Regions from separate parts of the Homo sapiens genome. Here region 1 is linked to region 2. Evidence: fine-mapped expression QTL. A gene starts in region 2. The other region holds a variant in brackets. All regions are shown on one strand. Distances are from middle to middle. Region 1 has its middle 38 kb from the start of WLS. Region 2 holds the start of WLS (Wnt ligand secretion mediator).

What was found. PIP is the estimated chance that this variant, and not a neighbour inherited with it, causes the effect.
Region 1: its variant is fine-mapped to the expression of WLS in whole blood (TOPMed, PIP above 0.99).

Annotation. Positions count from the first base shown.
Region 1 is chr1:68,268,211-68,273,594 of GRCh38, reverse strand. No RefSeq gene overlaps it. Among named protein-coding and RNA genes, the nearest start is that of WLS, 38 kb to the right of the region's middle. The variant T/C (reference allele first, on the strand shown) is at 2,308.
Region 2 is chr1:68,230,163-68,235,541 of GRCh38, reverse strand. WLS (Wnt ligand secretion mediator) reads left to right here and starts at 3,019. Exons shown (of 12, transcript NM_024911.7): 1 at 3,019-3,348. The coding sequence starts at 3,243.

The sequences.
Region 1 (5,384 bases), 38 kb before region 2:
TGAAAAAACTGGAAAGACCTGGAAAATGTTCAATTCAATTGAATTCAGTGCAATTTGAATTGTTAATCAATTTAAATGTTCATCATTTGAGCTTTAAAGGTAGGCAAACTGGTTTTTTTTCTTTCTAACTATATGTCCATAAGAAATTTCCTTAATGGCCCTTGCATGTTATTCAAAATTCTAATTAGTAAAACTGTATCGTCATGAAGATTAAATGAGGTAATGTTATCAAGCACCTACTATATCATCTGCATCAAAATATCCTGTTTCCTACTCCATTCATCGGTTTGGTCCTTGTATCATTTTGTATCATTTCTTTGTTTTTTCCCCTTGTGGCCTTATTGTTTCCTGACATTTTAAAATATCTATCTGGCCTTCAGAGCTGAATTGTAAGAACTTCAGGATCAGGAGCTGTTCTCATAAAGATGGTTCTCAAATTTCGAAATTTTTATCTTTTTTTTTTTTTTTTTTTTTTGAGATGGAGTCTCGCTCTATTGCCCAGGCTGGAGTGCAGTGGCACAATATCGATTCACTGCAACCTCTGCCTCCTGAGTTCAAATGATTCTCCTGCCTCAGCCTCCTGAGTAGCTGGGATTGCAGGCACCCACCACCACATCCAACTAAGTTTTGTAATTTTAGTAGAGACGGGGTTTCACCATGTTGGTCAGGCTGGTCTAGAACTCCTGACCTCGTGATTCGCCTGCCTCGGCCTCCCAAAGTGCTAGGATTACAGGCGTGAGCCACTGTGCCCTGCTTCAAATTTGTATTTTTTTAATGTGTGAAATCTTATACATTGCACATTGACACTCAAAGTACTAAATTAATATCAGCTTCCACACATCACCCAATGAGCATGAATTTGAACTCTCAACTAGTGGTGCCTTCGGCCAGGATTCCTAGGTTCAATTCGGATGGCATCATTATCTTTATGCAGCAATTTTTGCTTGTTCTATTATTTGAATAGCTAATCGCATTTGCCCTTCTAATATGTGAAAAGCCATAACAAAAAAGTGATTGTGACATAATAAAAGATATCCCCTAAATGGCAGATCTACATCTCAAATAGATTATTATTGGACTTAAGCTGATATTTGTGTTCAACTGTGAAGAGTAAGAATAAAATTAAGGGCCATGCATGAAGCATTGGAAGTCTGTCTTTTCAGGGTCAGCCTAAGAGGAGAGGAGTAGTGGTGGGGACATGAAGAACACTTTAGAATTTTAATTGTGAATCTGCATAAAAATCATTGACAGAGAAGTTCAAGGGTTTAAAGAGACATAGCCAAGGGTAAAGCTCACACAGATTTCTCAATTAAGTAGAGATTGGCAGAGTTGAATTTTTCTTTAACAAAAATATTTTTAAAAACTAATACCGGCAGGGCGCAGTGGCTCACGCCTCTAATCCCAGCTCTTTGGGAGGCTGAGGCGAGCGGATCACAAGGTCAGGAGTTCGAGACCAGCCTGGCCAATATGGTGAAACCCCATCTCTACTAAAAAAATACAAAAAACTAGCCGGGCGTGGTGGCGGGCGCCTGTAGTCCCAGCTACTCGGGAGGCTGAGGCAGGAGAATGGCGTGAACCCGGGAGTCCGATCTTGCAGTGAGCCGAGATCGCACCACTGCACTCCAGCCTGGGAGACAGAGCGAGACTCCGTCTCAAAAAACAAACAAACAAACAAACAAACAAAAAAACCATGAAATCATTTCATAATACCATGAAATCATCACTATAAGTTCCTGCTCAATCTCTGCACAACAACATTAGCAAATTCTTCTTCCCACAGTAAAATGATTTGGTTGTTTTGTTTACTAAATGTCACTTTTAGGAAGTAAGTTCTGCAAGGGCAGGAATATCTGTTTTGTTCAGAGATGTGTTCTAAGCACACAGATCAGCACCTGGCATGGAGTAATCGCTGAATAAGTATTTACTGAATGGAATTCAAGTAAACTGAAGTTTAAATAAGATATTACTTTGTAAAATTATCTGTTATACATCTGATGAGAGGTTAATATTCAAAATATATAAGAAACTCAAACAACTCAATAGTAAGAAAACAATCTAATACAAAAATGGGTAGATGGTTTGAATAGGTATTTCTCAAAATAAGACACATAAGTGGCCAACAGGTATATGAAAAAGATGTTCAGGATCACTAATCAACAGAGAAATGCAAATTAAGACCATAGTGAGAGATATCACCTCGCAGCTATCAGAATGGCTATTATTGCAAAGATGAAAGATAACATGTTGGCAAGGATGTGGAAAAAAGGCAACCCTTATACACTGTTTGTGGAAATGTAAATTAGAACA[T/C]CCATTATGAAAAAAAAATATGGAGGTTCCTCAAAAAATTGAAAATAGAACCCATGATATGATTCAGCAATCTCACTACTGGGTATATATCTGAAGGAAATGAAATCAGTATGTGCAATAGAAGAGACAGCTGCACTTCCACATTCATTGAAGCACTATTCACAACAGCCAAGATATGGAATCAACCCAAGTGTCCAGCAATGAATGAATGAATAAAGAAAATGTGGTATATGTACACAATGGAATACTATTTGGTCTTTAAAAGGAAGGAAATTGTGTCATTTGTGACAACATGAATGAGCCTGAAAGACATTATGTTAAGTGAAATAAGCCAGGCACAGAAAGATACATACCACATGATCTCACATGTGGAATCTAAAGAAGTTGGACTCAGAGAAGTAGAGAGTAGAATGGTGGTTACCAGGGGCTAGAGAGTGTAGGGGGCTTAGGAAAATGTTGATCAAAAGACGCAAAATTTCAGTTAGGTAAGTTCAAATTAGTTAAAATAAGTTCAACAGCTCTATTGTACAACATGGTGACTATACCTAATTAAAAAGGTATGTAACTATTTGCTGCCGGGTGTGGTGGCTCACGCCTGTAAACCCAACACTTTGGGAGGCTGAGTCAGGCAGATCATGAGGTCAGGAGTTCAAGACCAGCCTGGCTAACATAGTGAAACTCCATCTCTACTAAAAGTACAAAAAATTAGCCGAGTGTGGTGACAGGTGCCTGTAATCCCAGCTACTCAGGAGGCTGAGGCAGGAGAAATGCTTGAACCTGGGAGGTGGAGGTTGCAGTGAGCCGAGATAGTGCCACTGCACTCCAGCCTGGGTGACAGAGCAAGACTCTGTCTCAAAAAAAAAAAAATTATTTGCTATATTCAATTTTTTTCTCTGTTTAATAATTATGTGATCCTTCTATAACCTAGGAGTTTAAGAAAATCTAAAATAGATAATATGATTAGGATTTTATTATTTAGCTCTCACAGGTTCAGAAAAGCTGAGTACCAAGTTAGGCTCTGTCATGCGTTAGGCATGTAACCTTGATCAAGTCACTAAACCTCCCTGAGCCTGATTTAAGATAGATAAATAGTAACATATTTATGTAACAAACCACATATTTATCTTTGTATCTGTACTGCAGAATTAGGACAGTTTATAAGAATACCTACAATAAACTAAAGTAAATAAATTGCATACAGAAATATGTAAATACATATAAGTTCCAAGAAAAATACAGGTTGAGTGGGAAAACAAGACTAAGTAAAAGGGCTCCGTTTCTTTTTCAGTTCTTAAGATACAACCTTAGAGATTAATGTGAGAATCAAATGATTTAATAGGATGCTGTTTGATAAAGAGTTCATTGACCATGATGCACAGAGAGGCTGTATAAAGAGAAACAAGCCCAGCCATACCTCACATTCCAGCCACCCCCATTGGAGCCCCAGACGTGTGAGTGAAGTCACCATAGACTCTCCAGCCCAGGTGAGTCACCCTGTCCAGCACCACACAGCAGGGATAAGCTGCCACCACCATGCTCTGCCCAAATTGGAGAATTATGGGCAAAAATATGGCTGTTTTAAACCACTACCTTTTGGGTTAGCTTTTTATACAGTAATAGATAAACAGTTTGGTTTCATTTCTTGGTCTCAATAGCAGCAACTTTCGTCTCCTGTCTGGAGCAACTCCCTCTTTATTTCACCAATTATCACTCCACTATCTGTCCTTTTGCATCCATGGATTTTGAAGGAAGGTCAGTGGTATTGTGTGGAAAAGGCTTTGGCCTTTGACTGATACCTCCAAAAAAATTATCATGTGTGAATACTAAACAAAAATAATATTTAAAGCTGCAAATTGTTTGGCAATACAAAAATAGAAATCTGAGCCTTCTATTGACCAAAAATCAGAAATTGGATGTCACAGTGGCTTGTTTGCATTAGGCCAGAAGGAAGAAAAATGATATTAGTCATTCCCAGTGAGCAACAGTGAGAGATTGGCACGTGCACATGAAATGCAATCTCGCTTCCCATAGAAAGTGATTAAAAAGATTAACACACACACAAACACACCTTTTGTATTCCCAATTTTAATATATTGTACAACAAATACGTTAATATCAAGGAAAAGAAAGTAAGCCACAAGCTTTTCACCAAAATGTAACTACAGTCATGTATTGCTTAATGATGGGGATACCGTCTGAGAAATGCATCCTTGGGCAATTTTGCTGTTATTCAAACATCATAGAGGGAACTTACACAGAACTAGATGGTATAGCCTGCTAACACCTCAGGTATAAGGTATAGTCTATTGCTCCTAGGTTATGAACCTGTACAGCATGTTAGTATATTGAATACTGCAGGCAATTGTAACACAATGGTAAATGTTTGTGTATCTAAACATAGGAAAACTGTAAAATAGGAAAATACAGTAAAAATAAAATATCATATAACACACCTATATAAGGCATTTATTATGAATGAAACTTGCAGGACTGGAAGTTGCCGTGGGTAAGTTGGTGAGTGAGTAGTGAATAAATGTGAAAGTCTAGGACATTTCTGTACACTATTGTATACTTTACAAACGCTACACTTAGACTACACTAAATTTGTTTTAAAATATTTTTCTTTCATTAATAATAAATTAACCTTGGCTCACTGTAACTTATCTACTTTATAAATTCAATTTTTTTAACATTGTGACTCTTCTGTAATAACATATCTTAAAACATACATTTTGCAGCTGTTCACAAATATTTTATTTTTTTATCTTTATTCTGTAAGCTTTTTTTCTACTTTTATCATTTTTTTTTAACTTTTTTACATTTTAGTTAAAAACTAAGCACAAAAACACACATTACCTAGGCCTACATAGGGGCAGGATCATCAATATCACTATCTTCCACCACTGCATCCTGTCCCACTAAAAGGTCTTCAGGGTCAATAATACACCTGGAGCTCTCATCTGTGATAATAGTGCCTTCTTTTGGAGTACCTCCTAAAGGCCTGCCTAAGACCATCTTTCAGTTAACTTTTTATTTTTATAAATAGAAGGAGTACACTCTAATATAATGATAAAAAT
Region 2 (5,379 bases):
TCCCTTTTTAATTAAAATAACTATTTAATAAGTGCTCTTTTAAAGCAGGGGATCATCTTGGTGGAGAACCAGCAACTCATTTACAGATGAGAAAACTGAAACCTAAGGAGTTAGGCTAGTTACTCTGCAGAGATGCATTTCAGAGCAGAGGGGGTGGGGTGTATTGTAGCAGCTCATTAAAAACTAAGTCAAGGAGTTCACTAATCTGAATAAATCACTTCTACCACTCCAGACATTTTTTATGGATCCAGTTTATATTTGAAGTGGACGGGGGCCAGGCGTGGTAGCTCACACCTGTAATCCCAGCACTTTGGGAGCAGAGGTGGGTGGATCACCTGAGGTCAGGAGTTCAAGACCAGCCTAGCCAACATGGCGAAACCCCATTTCTACTAAAAATACAAAAATTAGCTAGATGTGGTGGTGGGCACCTGTAATCCCAGCTACACAGGAGGCTGAGGCAGGAGAATTGCTTGAGCTCAGGAGGCAGAGGTTGCAGTGAGCCAAGATCGTGTCACTGCACTGCAGACTGGGCGACAGAATGAGACTCTGTCTCAAAAACAAACAAACAAATAAATAAACAAAAAACCCACCATTTTTTCTCTACCCTCTTATGCATAGTGCTTGGGGGTCTGTGGACTAAACTGACAAAAGACAGATTAGCAAGGCAAAAGACAAATTTTTGTTCACATATATCAAATGTATGTGGGCATTCATAACCACTCAAGGAGGCAGTTGTTAATAGAATTTGGAGCTTATATTCTATCTTAATAGGAGAAGAAGTGTATTTATGAGAAAACAAATGACTTTTAGGAAAGATAAATGGGCCCTTAGGAGTGCTGGGCTCAGAACATGATACCCCAAGGTATCTGAGTACTTTGAACTGAAGGACATTGGAAGGACAACAATTCTGTCTACTTCATCCTTTCTGATAGTACCTGGTGTTTGCCAAAGTAGAGGTAATTAATTACTATTCAGTGAATAACATTTGGACTGGGGGGGGGTTCCTCTGGGGCAGGTGCAAGTACTTTGACATCTTGGTATCCTTGAGTGCTTAAGAAAGAAAGCCTGGAACATGTTAAAGGCTCAATAAGTGACTTGGATAAAGAGTTGAATGAGAGAATAGATAAACAGCAACCACAGTCATGCATTGCTTAATGATGGGAATACCTTCTGAGAATGTGTTGTTAGGTGATTTGTCATTGTGCAAATGTCATAGAGGGCACTTACATAAACCTAGGTAGCATAGCCTACTACAGACCTAGGCTACACCGTGTAGCTGATTGCTCCTAGACTACAAACCTGTCTGGCATGTTACTGTACTGAACACTGTAGACAACTGTAATGCAATAGTAAGCACTCTGTGTATCTAAACATATCTATAGAAAAGGTGTTGTAAGAATATGGTATTATAACCTTATAGGACTACTGTCACACACACGGTCTGTTGTTGACTGAAACATCCTTATGTGACACATAATGATGTGTATATCCTCAGAACTGTTAAGAACTATTAGATGTTGAAGAGATGGAGTTTTGTATGCATAAAGTTTGGTGCTTGTCCTTGACAAGTCTCTGTTCTATTTGGAGATTAGAAATGAATGCTTCTATTAAGTGTAACCTGCATGACATCTTTTATAAGGGCAATGAAAATTCAGGAACAGAGTAGAGGAGGAGAGAGGACTGGGAAAAATAGTCTCTTGGCATGAAGAGGGTGTGTAAGGATGGGAGGGACAAGAAACAAGATGTGTGGGTGGTGGTGGTAGAAACTGCACGTTTGGGGAGCAGGGTGGGGTATTTACCAAACCAAGGGTCTATTGAGTAAGGTGAGTTGTACTGGCCAAGCGGCCAGTTTATGAAACATGGAAAAACCAGGCCCAGAAATTTAGGCTTGATAGAGCAGGAAATCTCTATCGGGAGCCCCGCCCCTCTTTTTATGGAAGTTAAGTATAAATATAAATATATGATTTCTCACAAAGAGACAACAAACATTGTAACTTAATATAGGTACCCTCTAAACCAACTAAGATCTCTTTAGACCTTTGAAATACAAACTGTGGGCTTGCTTTCACATTCACTTATTCATTCCACAAAAGATTATGGGGCACCTACTAGAGCTAGCATTTTGTTAGGCACCATGGGGGGTACAAAGAACAAAAAAAACTTGGTCCCTATTCCCCAGGAGTTTACAGCTCAGTGGTGGAGACAAACGTGTACACAAATCCTTACAATAGGAGGTAAAAATGTAAATACAGGATTGTAGGGGCTCAGTTCCCAGAGATACTGCATGGAGGTGGTGTGGAAAATTAGAAAGATTTTTTAACACTAGTTGGTTTTGGATCAGGTTTAACATTGATGGAGTAGAACATGTTCTCTTTAAGGCAATAACCAGGGTTAAGGCTGTGGAAGCACATGTGCTGGAGTAACGAACAGTGGTCTGATTTGGCTGGAGAGCAAGTTTCCTCAAGGGGCGCCGTGGGGAATTTAGCTGGGTATGTGCCCAATAACCGAGGCTGGGAATCTGGTAGAAAGAAGTCGAGCTGAGACTTTATTCCGCATCTCTGTGTTTTGACTTAGGCATCTATTGGGTCCTTTTAAAAAAAATTCTCCTCCTCTTTCCTAAAGAGAGTTCTAGCAGTTGGGGGTGGGGTGGGGACCATTTCCTAAAGTCAACGCGTAAGTTAAAGGTCTGCAAGGCGGTCCACCGGTGATTTAAATCTCGCACTTCGGAAACCAGAAAAGGAAACCTGTGAGAAGCTGGGCAGGGGGAACCCGCTTAACATCAACAGCAACCCCTAAATGGCATCAGACCTTGGAGAGACAGGTTGCAGGCCAGACTCGGGAGCCAGGCGCCAGCACCCGCCAGAGCTCTGAGCCCCGAACTGGTGGGCAAGGGGTAGAGGAAGAGAGGGAGGGAGGGAGGGAGGAAGCGCGAGAGGGAGGGAGGAAGAAAGGGAGGGAGGCGGCGTCATGTGATCCGCTTCCCTGCTCCTTTAAGCGTCCACAGGCGGCGGAGCGGCCACAATCACAGCTCCGGGCATTGGGGGAACCCGAGCCGGCTGCGCCGGGGGAATCCGTGCGGGCGCCTTCCGTCCCGGTCCCATCCTCGCCGCGCTCCAGCACCTCTGAAGTTTTGCAGCGCCCAGAAAGGAGGCGAGGAAGGAGGGAGTGTGTGAGAGGAGGGAGCAAAAAGCTCACCCTAAAACATTTATTTCAAGGAGAAAAGAAAAAGGGGGGGCGCAAAAATGGCTGGGGCAATTATAGAAAACATGAGCACCAAGAAGCTGTGCATTGTTGGTGGGATTCTGCTCGTGTTCCAAATCATCGCCTTTCTGGTGGGAGGCTTGATTGGTAAGTGCGGAGAGCTGCAAACTTTTCCCCCTTTCTGTCTTTTCGGGCCCCTTCCCTCTTTGCCTCTTGGGCTACTTGTTACAGTATCACTGCCTTGCTTCTATGATCTAATTAGTCCGGCTATTGTGCTTAAGAAAGCAGAGCTCCATGGGGCTCCGTGGGGCACAATCCAGTCTAGTGGCTAAGAGAAAAGGAGGGGAAAAAGTTTTGGCCTAGTTTCAGTATCCACTTGAAAGGCAAGAGGGGGGCGGCGGGGGTGGGAATCTTAAGCATGGCGACGGATCGCGCGAGGAAGCGCTGGGTTACAAAGTTGATTGCTCGCCCCCCCCCCCCCCCGCTTTTTCCCGCGTTCCCCCCCTTTTCCTCTCGGTTCCCTTCCAATCAGCTCCGGGAGGGCAACGTAATCGACTTTATTAGGAACAACAGAAGAGTCGGGGAACTGTGCCCGGCGCAAACCCGGAGCTCTGTTACAAGGCTGAGATACTTGCACGGTTGTAAATGCATTTGGTCGTCTTTGCTAGGGGCTGAGGGTTTGCAATTTGGGGTCCCGACCTTCGCGCCCTCTGCTTTCCCGCCGCACTCCACCCCACGCTCTGCCGTGGACAGGTCCGAATTGTCGGCCGGGAGGTTGGGTGGGATGGGGTGGGGTGGGAGGGAGTCCTTGACCAGCGCCGCGGGAAGTTGGAGAGGTCGGAGGGGAAAAGCGTATCCGAAAGGTGTTGCTTTTGGCCTCCTGCCCACTCGTGAATATCCCTTCCCCCACTACTTAGAGCCCCGAGAGCCGGTGACTGTGAATGTCCCCGTCCTCTTTTGGCGCTTAGGAGAGCGCCCTCAGCTCCCACCACAGCCCCCCGCAGGTGACAGCTCGCCGGCCTCCTCGGCGACAGCGCCCGCCCCGGGAGACCTCCCCTGGCGTGCACCTCCCGGACCTCTCTGAGTCAAACAGGCTTCCGGGTGAAGAAAACCGCCTCACGGACCGTCCACTCGGAAAAACTCCCTTCCCCTCACTGTCTCCCCATCTGCATCCATCCTCCCGCCTCTCTGCACACTCGCGCCCCCCGCCCCCTCAAGATTTGGGACATCCCGGCACAAACTTCAATGCCAACTTTGCAGCGGGCGCGGACGGGAGGTTCGGTTTCCTTACTTCACGGCTTTGTTAAACTTTGCGGAGTGGGGAGTCCACGGAGGGGCTTTCTCCGCGCGTGCCTTTACGGGCGCCCACGCGATGTGGGGTGCGGGGAAAACGCCCGGGGGCGCCGGCGGCGTCGCTGCCAGAGCTGCACAGGCTTGGGCACCTCCAGTCGTGTGCTTGGCGTTTTGTCTCCAGACTTGGGTTTGATGGGAACAAATTAAAGGGAGTTTGGTACTGTAAATCACGGTAACATCCAAGCCAATTGTCTTAAACAAAGGAGAGTGGGTGAAGCTTCATCAAGGAGAGAAATACCTAAAGGAGACAGTGCTCTTTTCTCTGTGTGCATTTATCCACAAAACAGAAAAGGGTTCAGAGTTTTCAAACAATCTCTTATCCCCAGTGTGGGCCAAACAGCTTCACATTTTCTTTCTGGAACCCTCACCCTCAACACACACACACACACACACACACACGCGCGCACACACACACACGGGTTGGCTTTTGTGTTAGGAGCTTCTGTTTGGCTACATGCAATCTCGTTTCCCCGTATTGGATTTTTCGAGGCTCTTAATACCTTCTCTGCTGGGAGCTGAAGGCAGCCTTCCCTGTGCCCTCACAGTGATTATGCAGCGGTTACAATTACACCTCTTGTCTCCCTTGATGAGCAGTTGCAGTTAGATGCCATTGGATCTTGTGTGATTTCAGTGGCAGACCATAATTAAAATTTCTTGCACCTTGTGCTTTCAGAATTAAATTGGCCTATTATCCCTGTCTGACCTTCATCCTCTTTGAGGTTTTTGCACAAGCAGCAAACCATTACACATAGTTTCCTGGTGTTTGTTGGTGTGTTTCTTTTTCTAGGCTGATCTCCTAGCTTTGCAGACAGAGCCCATTATCCA